Homo sapiens: one gene and its partners. The protein of the gene in region 1 purifies or fractionates together with the protein of each later gene. This does not show direct contact. Each region holds a gene or a part of one and is shown in the gene's direction. Other genes may lie near its edges. The genes, in order: DHX37, NOP14, PARN, PIP5K1A, RBM19 and LIN28B.

The links.
Region 2: the proteins of DHX37 (region 1) and NOP14 purify together in Homo sapiens (affinity purification with mass spectrometry; one large-scale study listed by BioGRID and IntAct). This does not show direct contact.
Region 3: the proteins of DHX37 (region 1) and PARN purify together in Homo sapiens (affinity purification with mass spectrometry; one large-scale study listed by BioGRID and IntAct). This does not show direct contact.
Region 4: the proteins of DHX37 (region 1) and PIP5K1A purify together in Homo sapiens (co-immunoprecipitation; one large-scale study listed by IntAct). This does not show direct contact.
Region 5: the proteins of DHX37 (region 1) and RBM19 fractionate together in Homo sapiens (co-fractionation; one large-scale study listed by BioGRID). This does not show direct contact.
Region 6: the proteins of DHX37 (region 1) and LIN28B purify together in Homo sapiens (co-immunoprecipitation; one large-scale study listed by IntAct). This does not show direct contact.

What each region holds. Positions count from the first base shown.
Region 1 is NC_000012.12:124,948,729-124,951,131, reverse strand, and holds part of DHX37 (probable ATP-dependent RNA helicase DHX37), read left to right. Parts: intron 1-327; coding exon 328-442; coding exon of another isoform or gene 443-479; intron 480-581; coding exon 582-719; intron 720-888; coding exon 889-983; intron 984-1,072; coding exon 1,073-1,146; intron 1,147-2,403. UniProt on the Homo sapiens protein: ATP-binding RNA helicase that plays a role in maturation of the small ribosomal subunit in ribosome biogenesis. Required for the release of the U3 snoRNP from pre-ribosomal particles.
Region 2 is NC_000004.12:2,946,407-2,949,906, reverse strand, and holds part of NOP14 (nucleolar protein 14), read left to right. Parts: intron 1-1,498; coding exon 1,499-1,629; intron 1,630-2,295; coding exon 2,296-2,381; intron 2,382-2,786; exon of another isoform or gene 2,787-3,034; intron 3,035-3,359; coding exon 3,360-3,495; intron 3,496-3,500. UniProt on the Homo sapiens protein: Involved in nucleolar processing of pre-18S ribosomal RNA. Has a role in the nuclear export of 40S pre-ribosomal subunit to the cytoplasm.
Region 3 is NC_000016.10:14,581,761-14,585,260, reverse strand, and holds part of PARN (poly(A)-specific ribonuclease PARN), read left to right. Parts: intron 1-469; coding exon 470-512; intron 513-838; coding exon 839-914; intron 915-2,969; coding exon 2,970-3,080; intron 3,081-3,500. UniProt on the Homo sapiens protein: 3'-exoribonuclease that has a preference for poly(A) tails of mRNAs, thereby efficiently degrading poly(A) tails.
Region 4 is NC_000001.11:151,205,052-151,208,551, forward strand, and holds part of PIP5K1A (phosphatidylinositol 4-phosphate 5-kinase type-1 alpha), read left to right. Parts: exon of another isoform or gene 1-1,278; intron 1,279-3,500. UniProt on the Homo sapiens protein: Catalyzes the phosphorylation of phosphatidylinositol 4-phosphate (PtdIns(4)P/PI4P) to form phosphatidylinositol 4,5-bisphosphate (PtdIns(4,5)P2/PIP2), a lipid second messenger that regulates several cellular processes such as signal transduction, vesicle trafficking, actin cytoskeleton dynamics, cell adhesion, and cell motility.
Region 5 is NC_000012.12:113,945,826-113,949,325, reverse strand, and holds part of RBM19 (probable RNA-binding protein 19), read left to right. Parts: intron 1-289; coding exon 290-493; intron 494-1,861; coding exon 1,862-1,992; intron 1,993-2,850; coding exon 2,851-2,972; intron 2,973-3,401; coding exon 3,402-3,498; intron 3,499-3,500. UniProt on the Homo sapiens protein: Plays a role in embryo pre-implantation development.
Region 6 is NC_000006.12:105,081,470-105,083,832, forward strand, and holds the end of LIN28B (protein lin-28 homolog B), read left to right. Parts: 3' UTR 1-1,863; downstream 1,864-2,363. UniProt on the Homo sapiens protein: Suppressor of microRNA (miRNA) biogenesis, including that of let-7 and possibly of miR107, miR-143 and miR-200c.

The sequences.
Region 1 (2,403 bases):
TTTTTTGTATTTTTAGTAGAAATGGGGTTTCACCAACATGGTGAAACCAGCCAGGCTGGTCTCGAACTCTTGACCTCAGATGATCCACCCTCCTCGGCCTCCCAGAGTGTTGGGATTACAGGCGTGAGCCATTGCACCCGGCACTTCCTTCCTTTTCACGGCTGGATCAGACTCCAGCGTGTGGATGGGCCGCATTTCCCGGCAGATGGAGCACTCTCCCACTTTTGCGGCTGGAGTGGATAATCAGATTCTTCTCCTGGGTTGAAAGTATGCGGAGCCCCTGGGCATGGGTTCTTCCCTGACCACATCACTCTCCATTCTCTGCAGACCCCTCTCCTCGACGACCCTGTCTTCATCCACCCCAGCTCCGTCCTTTTCAAAGAGCTCCCCGAGTTTGTGGTCTACCAGGAAATCGTGGAGACCACTAAGATGTACATGAAAGGTGCCGAGGCCTGCGGACAGCCCCTTGTCCCCCGATGGTGACGCTAATGGGGGTGTGGCTGGGACCCTGGGGCAGAGGCATGGCAGCCCCTCCCACGGAGGGTGCCGCTGTAACCCCAGCTTCCTCCCCCGGCCCCCAGGCGTCTCTAGCGTGGAGGTCCAGTGGATCCCGGCCCTGCTGCCCTCTTACTGCCAGTTTGACAAGCCCCTGGAGGAACCAGCCCCTACATACTGCCCCGAGCGGGGGCGGGTGCTGTGTCACCGGGCCAGCGTGTTCTGTGAGTTGGGGCAGTGTCCTGGGCAACCTGAGCCTCCTGCAGCCGTGGGCTTCTCGGACACACGGTCCTGTCCCCTGCCCCCGGACGTGTGTGTCTCGGGTGGGGCAGGGATGGGACTCGGGAGGGCAGCTGCAGGAGGGTCCCTGTCTCACTGGCTCCCACCTTCTAGATCGCGTGGGCTGGCCGCTCCCCGCCATCGAGGTGGATTTTCCAGAGGGGATTGACCGCTACAAGCACTTTGCCCGGTTCCTGCTGGAAGGGCAGGTAGGTGGCACAGCGGCTCCAGACCCTCATCTCGGGTACCGTGGGCAGCAGCAGCCCGGGCCTCACCCCTTCCTGTGGTCTCTCATCAGGTCTTCCGCAAGCTGGCCTCATACCGGAGCTGTCTGCTGTCCAGCCCCGGCACCATGCTGAAGACGTGGGCCAGGTACTGCCTTCGGTGGGAGCCTCGCAGTGGGCAGGAGGGGTCCGAGGCCTGAATGACCTCCCCGGGGCTGCCAGGACAAAGCACCACACACAGGGAGGCTTAAAACATCAGAAGTCTGTGCTCAGGTCTGAAGGCTCTGCAGAGCCACGGTCTGTGCAGCGGCTCTCGGGGAGGGTCCGTCTTGCCTCTGTCGGCCTCCTGGGCTTGTGGCCACATCACTCCAGTCTCTGCCTCCATCTTCACGTGGCCATCTCTCTGTGTGTCTTTAGTCTCCCTCCCTGTGTTCTCCTTATAAGGACACCAGTCATTGTATTCAGGGCCCACCCTACTCCAGGATGACCTCTCCTTAACTCATGACATTTGCAGTGACCCTCTTTCCATATAAGGTCACACGCTGATGTTCTGGGTGGACATGAATATGGGATAGGGGAGACACTGGGCAGCTCCCACAGAGCCGCCAGGTGTCAGTGGGAGGCATCCTGCCCTCCTGGCCCTGGGGACTTCCTCCCAGCTAAGCAGACCCCTGCCCCATCCCGCCCACCACCTCTGCTTCAGGGCTCACCCTTGCCCTCTGCCTCCTGCTTCTGCTCTCCTCCTGCCTGTGGTCCAGACCCACAGACACCTCCCCCTTCCTGGGGCTGGTGGGGCCTATGGTGCAGGGGCTTGGGGCACTGGAGGCAGGCCTGAAGGTGCAGGCAGGTGCCAGGGACTCGAGATGGGGCGTGGGGCACAGCACCCGCTGCTGGGCTGTCAGGAGCCGTGTCAGTCACTCAGCTCACGTTTTCCAGTGTGGCCCTGTCCCAGGCATGTTCTCGGGGCTGGGATACAGACACGATCTCTGTCCCACAGCAGCGTTGCTCGGCCCCAGAGGGACAGAGCAGGACATGAGTGAGGCCTCGGTGGGCAGGGGGTGGAGTGCGACTGGGCTGGTCGGGGAGAGCCTCACTGGGCAGATTCAAAGGAGCCAGGGCTGCAGCTGGGCACAAATCTGGAGGAAGGTTCTAGATGAGACAAGTTGCATGCACAGAGCAGCCTTGGTGGGCAAGGAATGTGGACCAGAGGCAGCCAGGGTGGATGGGAGGAGGTGGGATCTAGAGCCTTCTGTCCCGGGATGATTAGGGGAAGGGGACCCTTTGCCTTCTCTTTTATTTTATTATTATTATTTATTTTTTAGAAGGCCTGTCTAGAGAATTATGTTTTTTTGCTTTTGAGTTTTGTTTGTTTGCTTGTTTGTTTGAGACAGAGTTTTGTTCTTGT
Region 2 (3,500 bases), on another chromosome or scaffold:
TTCTGGGATAACCTTTATGACCTGGCCATAGCTGTGTGTGTTCGTCTCCCTCCCAGGGGTTGCATTTGTGGAATGGGGACCAAGGATGCCCTTGGGAGTGCCTGGACACACCCCTGTGTCTGCTGATCCAGGTCTTAGAGTGAGTGGTCATCTTAGTTTGTGACTGTGGTTCTGTAGGCCGGCCCCCGATGGGCCAGATGCGCCTCTCTCTAGTGGTACCTTCACCTCCCTTTTAGTATATGGTCAGCCTCTTGTGGTGGACCAGAGGGGCAGGGCTGGGGAGGTGGGTGAGCATCTGCGAGAAGGCTTCCATGTTCCCACCTGGGCCTCCTGTTTGGCCACGTAACATTTTAGATGGAATATACAGTGTTGTTTTGTCTAGTATGTGGAGAAAAATTGTCCAGGCCAGGTGCGTGGCTGATGCCTATAATCCCAACACTTTGGGAGGCCAAGGTGGGTGGGTCACTTGAGCCTTGGAGTTTGAGACCAGCCTGGGCAACATTGCGAAACCTCGTCTCTACCAAAAATATAAAAAATAAGCCTGGTGCAATAGCTTGTGCCTGTGTTCCTAGCTGGTCAGGAGGCTGAGGTGGGAGGATCACTTGAGCCTGGGAGGCGGAGGTTGCAGTGAGCCGAGATTACACCACTGCACTCTAGCCTGGGTGACAGAGCAAGACCCTGTCTCAAAACAAAGAAAAGAAAAATGGTCAGGTTCTAGTAAGCAATGCCGAATTATTCTGTGCCTGCCAGACGCTTCCAGAGGAGAAGCTAGTGGTGAAGCTGGCCTCTGTGAAGTGCCCTCTGGTGGCAAGAGTCTCCTGAGCTGACACTGCTTGGCTCACAGTGGCTCCTTCCAGGTCCTTCTGAAGCAGTCTGGGCACTAAACCCAGCACCCTGCCACCAAGATGCTCTGAAACTGTGGGTGTTTTAGCAAATTCCTAATCAAGGAAAGGTGGGAGGGCATTTCCTTATTAGCCTGTTCCCAGGTGCGTGATCGCACCTGACAGCCCAGGTCAGGATGGCTGAGACCCCTCCAGGTGTACCAGGGCAAACGCTGGTGGGTTTGTTGTGATCGTGAAGTAGAATAGTTATATAAAATTACCTCTCTGTCAGCAGACATGTAAGTAATTCTCATTTTAAATGTGAAATGTGGGCCAGGTGCGGTGGCTCATGCCTGTAATCCCAGCACTTTGGGAGGCCTAGGCAGGCGGATCACCTGAGGTCAGGAGCTCAAGACCAGCCTGGCCAACACGGTGAAGCCCTGTCTCTACTGAAAATACAAAAATTAGCCGGGCATGGTGGCGAGTGCCTGTAATCCCAGCTACTCAGCAGGCTGGGGCAGGAGAATCTCTTGAACCCAGGAGGCGGAAGTTTCAGTGAGCTGAGATTGCACCACTGCACTCCAGCCTGGGCAACAGAGCGAGACTCCATCTCAAAAATAAATATATATACATATATATAAATGTTAAATGTGCAGTATGTTTTGTGTTTTTGATAGCCCCTGAATCCTATGAGGAACTGAGATCTCTGTTGTTAGGAAGATCGATGGAAGAGCAGCTTTTGGTGGTGGAGAGAATTCAGAAGTGCAACCACCCGAGTCTCGCAGAAGGAAACAAAGCAAAATTAGAAGTACGTGGATTGAGTGTGTGTGGAGCGCTGGGAGTGTCAGCATAGCCCCGTATATGAATGCCAGAATTGTGTGAAGTTGTGCAACGGCCATGTGTGCCTCAGGCCAGATGGGGCCAGCCCGTCACATGGTTACCTATGATGATGGCTGGGAGTACTTGGTATGGCACCGGCAGAGGCCTCCCTTGGCTTTGGCCCCTCTCTAGGCCTCGTGCCAGACCCAGCCAGAGGCAGGCATGGGGACCTTCACCTTCATCTCACAGGGGAGGACACTAGGGTTCACATAGCCAGCGTGTGGCAGAGCCAGACTTTGCTGTGGCAGATAGGTGGCTGTGATCGTGCCTCTTTCAGTGAATGGTGGATATTGCCTGTGAGGAGGACGCCGTGCTGCCCGTGTTCCTCGTCGTGCTTTCCTAGTGGTGTGTTGTCAGCTGTTCTGTAGAAGGATGCGCCTTGCCCTTAGCTTTCTCCCCCCTACACCTTCTAGTGCTTAGCAAGTTCTAGCAGTGTATTTGCTTACATTTTAGAAGGCTGCTCGTGTCTGTCACCCTGGGCTCCCCTGCCCCACCTGGTTGTCACCAGAATGTACGTGATCCAGAAGCTGTGTGCCTGTGGCTTTGTTCTTGGTGCTGAGCACTGAGCTTTATTTCCCAATTCATGTTCCTGCAGAAACTGTTTGGCTTTCTTTTGGAATACGTTGGCGATTTGGCTACAGATGACCCACCAGACCTCACAGTCATTGATAAGTTGGTTGTGTAAGTAAAAATGGTGTGTCATCTGGGATGTGGGGTTAAGCAGAACAATTTTTCTCCCATTTAGAGTCATAAAAATACATTCCAGAGTTACTAAGGTAGGTGGAATGATGGTGTCAGCATGCCAAGTGGGCAGGTGGTCACCCAGGGCTTGTGAGCCTCACAGCGCAAGCCGGCTTCTCACACGTGCCGCTCCAGCCACTGTAGAGCTGGGACTGACTTTTAACCACAAACAAGTTGATTTTGAAACAAGTGAACCCCTTTAGATTTGTGGCTGGGATGGGGTGGCTCATTGTAAGTTTCAAGCTCTGGGTGACTGAGCGGTATTTGGAAAGCACGGTAGACACCCCGCCCCTCACCCTTCAGTGAAACCCAGTTGGGTGGCTTTGCATGCCAGGGAGTGTGTACCTCTTGTCTGCATGGGGACCGCCAGGGCGAGCTCCTGCCCTCGTTGCCCTCTAAGGCTGTGTGACCCACTCAGTGGCTCCTGGCCCCCAGGGCTGGTGGCTGGAAGAATGCCAGAGGGGCAGAGTCCTCAGTTGAGAGGCGTGTGTTGGCTTCGGATCCATGAGAGTGCACACCAGCTTCCTGCCCTGTGCCGCGCGGAGCTCTCCACGTCATCTTCTGCATGCATGGAGGCACTATCAAAGAAGTACCTGTCGTGAGGAATAAATGAGTTAATATGGAAAGTGCCTTGGAGCTGTCAGCTGCAGCTGCCACACAGAGTGGTGCCCCCAACAACGTCTGTACCACAAATCGAGCTGTTTCTCCCACCACCTCCAGTCCATAATGTTATGGCCGAGTTTTTAGGAAATGGCAGAAGTGAGTGTAGACTCTTAAGAATGCTGTTAGAAAAAGCGGATTCATCCAGTTCTTACTTGCTCAGTCAACAGGTGACTGCATAGGAAAGTGGCTTGCAGGGCTTTTCTGTGTTTCTTATCTAAAGTCATTCTCTCCTGACTTTACATTTCTGCTTAACAGGCACTTATATCATCTTTGCCAGATGTTTCCTGAATCTGCAAGTGACGCTATCAAATTTGTTCTCCGAGATGCGATGCATGAGATGGAAGAAATGATTGAGACCAAAGGCCGGGCGGCATTGCCAGGGTTGGATGTGGTAAG
Region 3 (3,500 bases), on another chromosome or scaffold:
CTGATTGTAGATTTTGGCCCTGCAGAAGAATTTATAGTTTACAAACCTGAGGAGTAGGAGTAGATGGTAGCAGTTTGGGAATGGTAGACCGGCAGCAGTATTTGAACCACGTAAAACCATGTGAGAGTATTTGACTCACCCTTGAGATTGATGGAGCCCAGGCTCTCTGAGGATCCAGGTGAATCTAGAACTTGTACTCCAAGTGTGGACTCTCCTGCAGTTGCTCAATGAAGTCGCTGATGATGGGACTGAGTACCTACTCCAACGTAGCAGGGATGCTGGTGCTGGGTTCAAAATGGCCAATGTGTTTAATTACTTTGTCTGTGTTTAAGTATTTTCTGTATTAAACATTTTATGTTTTAATTATGTTTTTTATGTATGAAGTATTTTAAGTAGCTTACATATTTGAGTAAAAGACATTTTAAACATTGATATACATTTTGTTTACCTTGTTAAAAATTCTTTTTAGACTCTTGGATACTAAATTGATGGCCAGCACACAACCTTTTAAGGTATTATTCATTTGCTACTTTATAAAGCGACTGCATATTACTGAGTGAAATGAATGCCAGAACAATATAGCCTTCTGGCAAAAGGTTTGGAGGTATTTAATGCATCTGTAAAGATCTTTATTCATTTGGTTATACTTTGTATATTATAAAAATTAAACTAGCTGCTTCTCTTTCACATTGAAAAAAACGAAGACTTCTGTGTTTCTTTAAAGAACACAAGGAGACAGTACTAGATGCTGTCTTTTTTTTGGGGGGGTCAGTGAATCTCTTTAATATATTGTTCTGAGATGATGAAATCTCATAATTCTTTGCTTCGTGGTTTGCAGGATATCATTAACAACACATCCCTTGCGGAATTGGAAAAGCGGTTAAAAGAGACACCTTTCAACCCTCCTAAAGTTGGTAAGAATATTAAACCGGAAACCCTCCAAACTCTTTGTAATAATTATTGATGTATATTGTAGAAGAAAAGCAGAATGGCTCTGGAGACCGTATTGTTCATTTATAGATTTTGGCTGAATTCACTTGCACGTACCGTGTGTTGAATTATTGTTTTTTGAATAAAGATGGTCTTTTAATTCTACATATATTTTATGTTAATGGAGTTGGGTAGCCATTCATTGAGAATTTTAGCAATTAAAGCTTCAAGGCTTCTATTTTCTAATAATATGGAATTCTCCTAAAACTTGATGTGCCCTTTTATTCTTTCATACATTATTGAAGCAGAGACAAAGAGCTAGTGATTAATCACCAGGGGTAGAGTAAAAAATATATTTTCCATCTCAGAAAAGCCCGAGAACTGGATTTACAGGTGAGATTAAGGCAAGTCCCCACCCTGCCTCCTTTTCAGCTGGTTTAGAGAGTAGAAACAGCAGCACTGAGGAAAACCAGAAGTAGGGAGATGAGATGGAGGTGTTTTGCCACCTCGGGCCACCACCAAGGTATGTGGAGAGCCTACCAGGTGCTACTTCCTTGGTCCCTGTTAACCTGATTGTGCTGCTGATACGGTGATTAGCGAGCCATTAGTTGTAGCCTGAAAACTTCTAAAGACATGGATAATAGGACTAATGGTTTAGAAATTGATAATGCAAAGTATTAAAGCAGCCAAGATTACAGTTATTTGCCCCTTTCTGGGTAATAGTCCAAGAAAGGAATTAAGAAAAGTGGTGGTGGGGCCATTGGGGGAGAAAACGTGGACCTTTTCTATAACAATATAATGGAAATAATTGATTTTGGAAAGAATGTGTCTCAGTTGATGATGGAGTGGAAGATATTACTTAGGTGGCTACCATGTTAAAAGGCTTTTTTTTAAAGGCATCAAGTCTAATATTTAATATGGAGTTAAAGAATTCTTGCTTAAAGAGCATTGTATTGACATAAAAACAGTTACAGCCTTTTCATTGTTAATTTCCATTTATGCTTTTGATTCTGTGTTATAGTAACCTTCCTGACATTCATTTCCAGAATGGTTCTAGGATATAATTATTTATGAGTTATAGTTTTATGTTATTATTTCCATATAAAATAGTGGTATCTGGTAGAGAATTCAGTCTAAAGCAGGTCATTCCTCTTATAGTTTATCTGGTCACATCTGTATTTATCAATGTCACAAAAGAACCATATTGTATATAAAGCGGTCTTTGCTGTAAAGTGGTTCCATGATCCAAGGCCAGCATTATAGCAAGTTCGATTTATTTTTGGAGTTGGTTGTGCTGTCACCTTTCGATCTCTAAGCTTGGGAACATAGTAGAGGACAGTAGTGAGTTGGAGCTGTTGATAGTGAATTGCAGTCTTCTCTTTTTTTGGGGGAGGGTTGCCTCAGGTATTGATAGATAACAGTTTTTGAGCACTTACTATGTACCAAGCACTAGGTAAGAGTTTAACTTATATTATCTTATCTGATCCTAACAATAACCTTTTGAAGAAGGTTTGATTATCATCTCTGTTTTACAAAACTGGAACCTTAGGGATGAAGTGACTTGCCCAAGGTCATACCGCAAATAAGTGGTGGAGCAGAGATTCGAACTCAGTGTGACTCCAGAGCCCATGCTCTTAATCTTTACTCTGGATCATCTATTGTGGCCTGATGTGACCATCTTGTATAAGGGAAGAATATCCTTTTCATGGCCTTAGAAAGCAAGCAGAAGAGGAATCATTGTCCTAGAGTGAGTTATGGATGATCATAAATAGCACCCACCAGTGTGGGACGAGAAAGCCCACGGCTGAGTCCTTTGTAATCTAACTGAGGCATTTCTGTATCCTAGACCAAAGCCCTCCTTTTCAGTGACTCTGTTATCTTGTATTTTAAGGTCTTATATAGAGAGAATTAAGGAATAGATAGCTTTTTTCTGCCTATTTAGGGTATTTCTCTAGCATATGCTAATGCAATTTTGATTGGTAGGGCAATGTGCTTACTAGTCTTTGTTTTGAGGAAAACTTTTTCCTTTTTTTTCTTAGAAAGTGCCGAAGGTTTTCCAAGTTATGACACAGCCTCTGAACAACTCCACGAGGCAGGCTACGATGCCTACATCACAGGGCTGTGCTTCATCTCCATGGCCAATTACCTAGGTACGCATTACATGTCTTTCAGTCAAACACGCAGTGATCTAGGGTGGATCTTACCTGTCTCCTGGCTTAGGCTGCTGTAATAAATTACTGTCGAGTGTGGGGCTTAAACAACAGACATTTATTTCTCATGTTCAGGAGGCTGGAAAGTCCAAGACCCAGTTGCCAGCAGACCTAGTATCTGGTGAGAGCCCACTTCCTGGTTTGCAGATGGCTGCCTTCTCCTGTCCTTACGTGGTGGAGAGCAGAGAGAGCAGAAGCTGTGCCGCCTCTTTTTTAAGAGTCAGGGTCTCACTCTGTCACCCAGGCTGGAAGTACAGTGGTTCAATCATAGCTTACTGCAACGCTGAACTCCTGGGCTCAGCCTCCCAAGTAGCTGGGACTACTGGTGTGCATCACTGTGCCTGGCTAACTTTTTAATTT
Region 4 (3,500 bases), on another chromosome or scaffold:
TAAAGTGGAAACTATAGCCTGTGAAGTGAACAACAGAGATAATACCAGGCCAGCTAGCAAACTGGGGAGAGGGAAGGTGGTAATTTTATCCTTTAAATTGTTCTCTCCTAGAATGTTATTTATTATTTTTTTGAGACAGAGTCTTGCTCTGTCGCCCAGGCTACAGACCAGTGTAGTGCAGTGGTGCGATCTTGGCTCACTGCAGCCCTTGCCTCCCAGGTTCAAGCGATTCTCCTGCCTCAGCCTCCTAGGTCACTAGGATCACAGGCGTGCGCCACCACGCCCAGATAATTTTTGTATTTTTAGTAGAGGCGGGGTTTCCCCATGTTGGCCAGGCTGGCCTTGAACTCCTGGCCTCAAGCGATCCTCCTGCCTTGGCTTCCCAAAGTTCTGAGATTACAGGCGTGAGCTACTGCCCGGCCTCTCTCCTAGAATTTTGGAGCATTCTTACTTGACGTAAAGAAGGGAACAAGAGCCGGGCATGGTGACTCACGCCTGTAATGCCAGCACTTTGGGAGGCCAAGGCAGGTGGATCACCTGAGGTCAGGAGTTCCAGACCAGCCTGGCGAAACCCTGTCTCTACAAAAAATACAAAAATTAGTCAGACGTGGTGGCGTGCTCGTGTAATCCCAGCTGCTAGGGAGGCTGAGTCAAGAGAATCACTTGAACCCAGGAGGCGGAGGTTGCAGTGAGCTTAGAGTGCACTACTGCACTCCAGCCAGGGCAACAGAGCAAGACTCCGTCTCAAAAAAAAGAAAAGGGAACAAGAAAACTTATCAGTTTATTTTTCTTTCTTCTTTTTACTGGGTTTCCTTGATCAAGGACAAAAGTGTACTTCAAGAATATACTCTTTCCTGATGGCCAGGTAGAGAGGGAATCTTTGTTTTTCTGTGCTCCATACCCAGCCCAGAGAGACTGAATGAAACACCGATGGTGTTTCCTAGAGGAAACCCTAAGAAGCCCGTTTCCCCTATTGCACCTCACTTCTCTGCCCTTTCCCATCTAAACAGAGAATTTAATTTCGACATATGTTTATCCTGTTTTGTTCATATCTCCTACAAGCTTTTATTCTTTTACTGTTTTCTATTTGAAGTGAACTTTTTTCCCTCAACCCCTCCATCTTTTTAAACTGTCTCCATTTTTCTTTATTCTCCTGTGAAATTTCAGTCTGTTTATTTGTAATGGTTGTATTCAGTATGTATTAATTTACAAATATCTAATTCCTGGAAAATCTCTCTTGTTGGAATCTGAGGAAGACATTGGCAAAAAGAGAGGAAGGTAGGTCTGTTGTAGGGAGTTCAGCATATTCTTATTATTTACCTTGTATACTTAACTGAGCAATATGGAAGTAATCCAGAATAAGCTGTCCAAAAAGATTAGAGATATTGGTTGGGGGTGGGCAAAGGGGAGGTGAGCAAAGGAAGTTGGCGAGAGGGAATGAGAAGAGGGTTTTTTGTTCTTGTTTGTTTGTTTTTAGGATATTTAATTAGAGTATATTAATACTTTTTTTGTTTTGTTTTGTTTTGTTTTTTGAGGCGGAGTTTCACTCTTTTGCCCAGGCTGGAGTGCAGTGGTGGGATCTCAGCTCTCTGCAACCTCCACCTCCCGGGTTGAAGCGATTCACCAGCCTCAGCCTCCCAAGAAGCTGGGACTACAGGCACGTGCCACCACATCCGGCTAATTTTTGTACTTTCAGTAGAGACAGGGTTTCACCATGCTGGCCAGGCTGGTCTCTAACCCCTGACCTCAGGTGATCTGCCCACCTCAGCCTCCCAAAGTGCTGGGATTATAGGCGTGAGCCACCTTCCCGGCTATTTTTGTATTTTTAGTAGAGACGGGGTTTCGCCATGTTCGCCAGGCTGGTCTCGAACTTCTGACCTCAGGCGACCCTCACTGCAACCTTCGCCTGCTGGGTTCAAGCGATTCTCCTGTCTTAGCCTCCCTAGTAGCTGGGATTACAGGTACACACCAACATGCCTAGCTAATTTTTGTATTTTTAGTAGAGATGAGGTTTCACCATGTTGGCCAGGCTGATCTTGAACTCCTGACCTCAAGTGATCTGCCCGCCTTGGCCTCCCAAAGTGCTGGGATTACAGGCGTGAGCCACCGCGCCTGGTCTGAAATATGTTCATTTTAATCCAGCAGAATTCATTGCTGTTTCAAGATAGAACCAGATTTGGAAATAAAATTGGAAGGTGGCTATCTGCCAAAAATTTCAAGTGCCTCTTGGCCATGGGTAGCTTATTCAGGAAACCCAAGTCTTTTAAGGAAGGACTTGGATTTTTTTCTTAATTTCAAAGAACGTTTTTGTGCCAAGGGATACATATTTGAGGTCTGAGAACCATGAAACTTGTTTGTAGGATTAGAAGCAAAAGTTGACTAGAGGGAAATGTAGAGTTATTTTAATTTAACTCCCTCATTTTCCAAATTAGGAAACTGAGGTAAAGATGTTGCATAAAGGCTGTATGTTACCAAGATTAATCTTTTTTTTTTTTTTTGAGATGGAGTCTCGCTCTGTCCCTCAGGCTGGAGTGCAGTGGCGTGATCTCGGCTCACTGTGACCTCTGTCTTCCAGGTTCAAGTGATTCTGCTTCCTCAGCCTCCCAAGTAGCTGGGATTACAGGCGCACGCCACCACGCCTGGCTAATTTTTGTATTTTTAGCAGAGTCAGGGTTTCACCATGCTGGCCAGGCTGGTCTTGAACTCCTGACCTCGTGATCTGCCTGCATCGGCCTCCCAAAGTGCTGGGATGATTACGGGCATGAGGCACCACACCTGGCCATCAAGATTAATCTTAATAAATATGTTGCTCCTTCTTTTTTTTTTTTTTGAGACAGAGTTTCGCTCTTGCTGCCCAGTCTGGAGTGCAGTGGTGCGATCTTGGCTCACTGCATCCTCCTCCTCCTGAGTTCAAGTGATTCCCCTGCTTCCCTAGTAGCTGGGATTACAGGCACATGCCACCACGCCTGGCTAATTTTTGTATTTTTAGTAGAAATGGGGTTTCTCCATGTTGGGTCAGGCTGTTCTCGAACTCCTAACTTCAGCTGATCCACCTGCCTTGGCCTCCCAAAGTGCTGGGATTACAGGTGTGAGCCACCGGGCCCAGCTGGCTCATTCTTTGATATACTGCTTTTAATTGGCTATTAGCTGAGGTGACCCCAGGACTGGTAGATCAAATTGCTTTCAAGCTTTTGTTTCTAGGGACATCCTTGCACTTCTGACTGTTTCCTAGAAGAGCGTTAGGAAAAATTTACACCAGCTAAGAAACAAAATTTAGCTTTTCTCTGAAATGTGGCTTGGTTTTCTTTTCTTTTTTTTTTTTTTTTGGAGATGGAGTCTCACTCTGTCGCCTAGGCTGGAGTGCAGTGGTGCAATCTTGGGTCACTGCAAGCTCCACTTCCCGCTTTCAAGCGATTCCCCTGCCTCAGCCTCCTGAGTATCTGGGATTACAGGCGCACACCACCACGCCCAGCTAATTTTTGTATTTTTAGTAGAGACGG
Region 5 (3,500 bases), about 11 Mb from region 1:
GAATACAGCCCGGAGTTTAGAGAATGCATCACCGTGGTCTGGGATAACTCAGGCAGGCTCCCTCCAGGGCTGAAGCTGAACTGGCAGGGTGAGTGAGATTTGGGTTCAGGCCTGGTGTTGGCTTGGCTTATGCTGCCGCCTCAGGTGACAGGGCAGGTGTTGGGTGCTGTCATCTGCCACCTTGATTGTGTTTTTTGGAAGGCAGCAGAGAAGAGTTTGGAGTCACCAGCAAGGAGTTGCTGGCAAGTTCTAGGCCTCCCCCTGGAGCCCTGACTCCTCTTCATTGCAGGTGGGCGCTACATCGAGGTGTTCAGGGAAAAGAACGTCCCCACCACCAAGGGTGCACCAAAGAATACCACCAAATCCTGGCAAGGCCGGATACTCGGGGAGAACGAAGAGGAGGAGGACCTGGCCGAATCCGGAAGGCTCTTTGTACGGAACCTGCCCTACACCAGCACCGAGGAGGATCTGGAGAAGCTCTTCTCCAAATATGGTAGGGGTGTGGCCTCCGGGCCGTGGATAGCCCAGCGGCTATGGGAGCCGGGCTCTCACTCTGACGTCCTGGGTTCAAGTCCCAGTGTGCACACGACTCCACATCTCTTGCCTCAGTTTTCTCATCTGTAAAATGGGACCAAGTACCCCTGAGCTGCTGTGAGGATTCAGTGACATGATGAATGCAGGGATTCGCAGGGCAGGAAGTAAAAGGTATTAATAGCATCACTGGCATCCTTTGCTGTCTGAACTCTCTAACTTCTCCAAATTCAGAATTGAAGCAATTCGGATGACTTTTTTGAGATACTCCCTTGCTGTCCAAAGTCATGCCACTCGGTATTGGAATTGAGTAACTGTACAGGTTTCACCTGATGAATATACCTACACGGCGTTCCTCCGTATCTGAACTCTTAATTATGTAAAGTCTTCTTATCCAAGCTGAGCACCAAATAGATTTGATAGTGTCAAGGTTAGTGTTGTTGTTGCTGTTATTTCTCAGGCCATGGGCTTGAGGGCCTGTAGTCCAGCTTGGTCACAACAGGCTGTGTTTGTTTGTGGAGTTACCATTGTTGAAGGGCAGGAAGGGAGGGTTCAGGATGAGGGGAGGTCTTGATACCTTTGAGATCCCCGCAGTGTCTCCCCATGTCTATTCAGAGGCCAGCTGTAGGTTGTGGAGGATTGGAGATGTAGGTTGAACACCTGATGTGGGCCCCGTTGTCAGGGTAAGGATGCCCTGAGTGGAGCATGCCATCAGGAAAATTGACCTGACCTCCAAGCCTGGGGCCTGCCCCAGTGGAACTGTGTGTTCCATTCACCAGTCTGCTCACCATATCCTTCACACAGGCTGGCATCCCGGCTTACACCTCATGGGTGGGCTGAGGGGGAGAAGCATTTGTCGATATATTGCAAATGTCCATTTGGGAAGGAAAGACCCAGAGAGGGGACGCGGTCACACCCTGGCATTCAGAGTTGAAACCAATGCAGAAAGGGTGTGCTTTAATTTGAGCATGATGCTAATATCATCATGGAAGACACTTCTTTGGCACTAACTCTAGCAGGCACTGTTTAGTGCACTATGCACGCATGAACGCATTTAGCCCATGAGCTAGGTACTGTTGTGCTGTTTTACAGATGAAAAGACTGAGGCATGGGGAGGCTTAGTGATTTGCTCAAGGCAAGCTTCATGTGTAATAGGTGGTGGTGCTGGGCTCCAGCCCAGGTATTGTTGCTGTTAGGATAGACACACGTAGGGGACTGGGAAATGACACCCATGACCTGTGAGGTTGGCTCACAGCTGGTGCTCACCACATTCTTCCCTGGGGCCAAGTGGCTGCGGCCTACCAGAGACCGACACTTCTCCTGTCCTCAGGTCCCCTGTCTGAGCTCCACTACCCCATCGACAGCCTGACCAAGAAACCCAAGGGTTTTGCATTCATCACCTTCATGTTCCCTGAGCACGCTGTGAAGGCCTACTCGGAGGTGGACGGGCAGGTATTCCAGGTGAGGCCCCGTCCTGGGCTGGCCAGGAGGCTGTGGGGCTCACATGGTCGGGAAAGGCTGGTGTGTGTGTGTGTGTATGTGTGTGGACACGGGCGTCCACTTTGTGGGCCTAAGAAAATGTGCAATGGCATGCTAAGTCACTGCCTCACTCAAGCCACTGGAGAGTAAGAAGTCGTGTGAGGGCACGGTCTGATCTGTTCTGGTCACTGATCTGTGGCACCTACACCTCTGTCTGGCACTTAGCAGGCACTGAAAAAATACTCCTTGAATGGATGAATTTGCTCTCCATCTCTATAGATACCACCTTAGAAGAGGAGTAAGAAGAAAAGAATTTTGACAGGGACCTATTAAAATGGCCACAGTGGAATAAAAGAAACTTCTCTTTTCCCAGTGTTACCAAGTAATATACTTAGCATACATCCTCAAGCCCCAGGCTGCCTCATCATCACCCTTTTTCCTTTTCTCATTCATTCATTGATTTATTCATGATTTCTTGATCCCCTTGTTGCCATCAGGCCAGACCTGGCCCCACCGGCATGGACCTCACATTCTTACTCACTGGTGCAGGGACAGGATGCGATGCAGGCTTGAGAGGCGGGGAGAGGGCTGCGGGTGCGGGGTTATACACTGATCGAAGTTTTGTGTGTGTAGCTGTGTCAGGTGGCCCCCTCACGACATCAGGATCCTGTGTCAGGTGGGAAGAGAGTGGCCACGTTCTACCTGACCTCCCTCCCACCCTCTGGTCAGGGTTTCAGTGCTGGGTCCAGCTTACTCGTGGCAGAAGCCAACATCCTTCGGCAGGAAGCAGGGCTTACAGGCAAGGCTTCTGTTTACTCCCTTCCCGTCATTCCCATCCAGGGCAGGATGCTCCACGTGTTACCATCTACCATCAAGAAGGAAGCCAGCGAGGATGCCAGTGCCCTGGGATCGTCGTCCTACAAGAAGAAGAAGGAGGCCCAGGACAAAGCCAACAGTGCCAGGTCCTCAGTGCCCCTGAAACCACTGAGCTCCAACCCCAACCCTCTGCCACCCTCACCCTGCCCTTTCTAAGCCACCTGGGTCTTCTGACTCCTGATGGGTTTAGTTCATACCTTACCGAGCTTCAGTTTTCTCATCTGTAAAATGGGAGAATAATAGTAGTGCCTTACTTTTATGGTGCTGTAAGGTTTAAATGAGTGAATGTATGTGAAGTTCTTAGTCCCTGACACAGATGAAGCACTGTTAGGGATGGTTCCTGTCATCATCCGTCTTGTTGTCTTCAGGCCCTGTATACGTAGCCCATGATAGGGAAATTGGGGGCATGTAGATAGGCAGGCCTAGGAGCCCATTTCTTACAGGATTCGTGTCTGAGAACGAGTTCCCCTCATCCAGCTGCGGTCTGATCTCCCTGTTCTGCCTCTGCCTCTTAGCTCTCACAACTGGAACACACTATTCATGGGGCCGAATGCCGTGGCCGATGCCATCGCACAGAAGTACAACGCCACCAAGAGTCAAGTGTTTGACCACGT
Region 6 (2,363 bases), on another chromosome or scaffold:
TATGCTGTTCCAGCCTTACAGGTGGCTGATAATTCTCTGGTACAGAACCTTTTTATCTGTATTATAAATAGCAATTCACAACTGCATGTTTCTGACAAACACTTGTGAATAATGAAGCATCTCGTTTTAGTTAGCAAAGTCTCCAAACATTTCCTTAAAATAATCATGTATTTAGTTTAAAGAATTATGGGCACTGTTCAACTTAAGCAAAACAGAACACGGAAGCAGTCTTAGAAGCACCACTTTGCCCAGAGGTGGAGGTTGGAAGGGGTAGCAGGGAGAGGGGTTGGTGTATGCAGGTATTCATGCTAGGCAAAGAGTTTAAAAGACGCCAATGTCCTTCATTTACTGTCTGTGCTGCCCTGAAGCCAAGCGTATTGCAGCATTATAGCCCCAGGCACATAACTAACTAGCACTGGCTTGCCAAGGAATGAACATGCAATGCCATTACTAGCTATTGAGGGAAAAGGGTCTGTGTGAAGCATCACTTTGCAGGGATTACTAATGGTGGGGCAGCAGGTCTGTGAATTAAGTTATCTCTTGACCTCACCCTCATGTCAACACAAATGTAATTCCTAAACAAGATGCATTGCCAGTCTCTTAGCCCTGTAAGCTGATCTTTTGCTACATGGCAGACTATAATGAAAACATTTTTATACTTGGGTTTCTAGTCTTCACTAGAAGGCCTTGGATGTATTTTTGCAGTTGAAAGATTTAGAAAGATTTTTACCTGCTTATAACTTGGAAGTTTAGAGTGCAATGTAAGAAAAAAGATCAAGAAATGTCATGTTATTAGCATCAGTCCACCTCCAATATTGCCGATACTTTTTTTATTCTGGCTCAGTTTTATTTTGCACCAGTGCGGCCCCAAGTTACTGCTGGTTGTATTTAGTTTGTGAATAGGAGCCCATAAGTGTTAATAGACTTTGTAACATTCACTATAAGATGAATTATACAGGACATGGGAAATCTCATTAAGTCTTAAAGTTAATTTAAATTAATTTATCTGTTTTCTCTAAGAAATGTTTATCATAAAATATATATGTGTATTTCCCCTTTGGTTATAAAATTTGGGAAAGTATGTACAAGTGCAGCTGCACTGACTTTAATTTTCTAGATGTCTTAATGAGATTTATTTGTTTTAGAGAAGAACATCTTGTTAAAAGCATCAAACTCTGTCTTACATAGCTGTCAACAGCCTCTTTAAGATGTGGTGGTTGTATGATCTGTGTCTTAATTGTTCAGTTAGAGTGAGAAGTTGACCTATGATTCATTTTTAAATTTTATATTTGGAACAAAGCTGCAAGTTATGGTAAAGTACTGTACTGTGAGAAGTATTATGATATTTAATGCATCTGTGGCTTAACACTTGTGAGAGTTACCAGCTTGAAAATGATGGTGTTGACTACCTCTTGAATCACATCTATCAACCACTGGCACCTACCACCAAGCTGGCTTCAATTAGTATGTGTTGCTTTTTGGTATTAACAACTAACCGTACTAGAGACCAAAGTGAACCCTGATTTTTATATGTCTTTAATAATGGTGTTTTATCTAGTGTTTTTAAATTATCCTGTGTAGTATTTAGATTACCTCATTGTCCATTTTGACTCATGTTGTTTACAAGTGAAAATAAAAACACTTGAACTGTATGTTTTTAAAAGACAAAAAAGGGGTAGATGTTTGGAATGCGTTTCACTCGCATGCAGTCATCTGGAGGGACTGAAGCACTGTTTGCCTTTCTGTACACTCTGGGTTTTATATTCTCATTTCATGCCTAATGTCTTATTCTGTCAATTATGGATATGTTGAGGTTTAAAAAAATTACTTGATTAAAAATAAAACATATAACGTTGGCATTTATGATGGGTTTTGGAGATTTTTTATGATGTGTGTTCTTACTAAGTTAAGTGAAAGGATAAAAGGCCATTTAGGCAGTGTTTTACATCAGTTGGAGCATAAGTTAAGTGGTATTAACATATCCTCAGTGGTGAGTATTAACATGGAACTTACTCCAACAATACAGATGCTGAATAAATGTAGTCTAAGTGAAGGAAGAAGGAAAGGTGGGAGCTGCCATCACTCAGAATTGTCCAGCAGGGATTGTGCAAGCTTGTGAATAAAGACACATACTTCATGTAGTCAGAAGAGTGGTCTGAAGCAAAATATTCAAAGCCTATTGAAGAAATCATTTTAGAATTTTTCTACAAGTTTTTTCTAATAAAGAATTTGAAAAGGGCAAATTTTATCAGTACCAAATATCTAAAATACGAATGTAGATTTATCAAACCATGAATGCAGTATTGATGTACTGTAACAAACGATTTGGTAAAACTATTGAGTTCTTTAAATTGGCCAGTTCC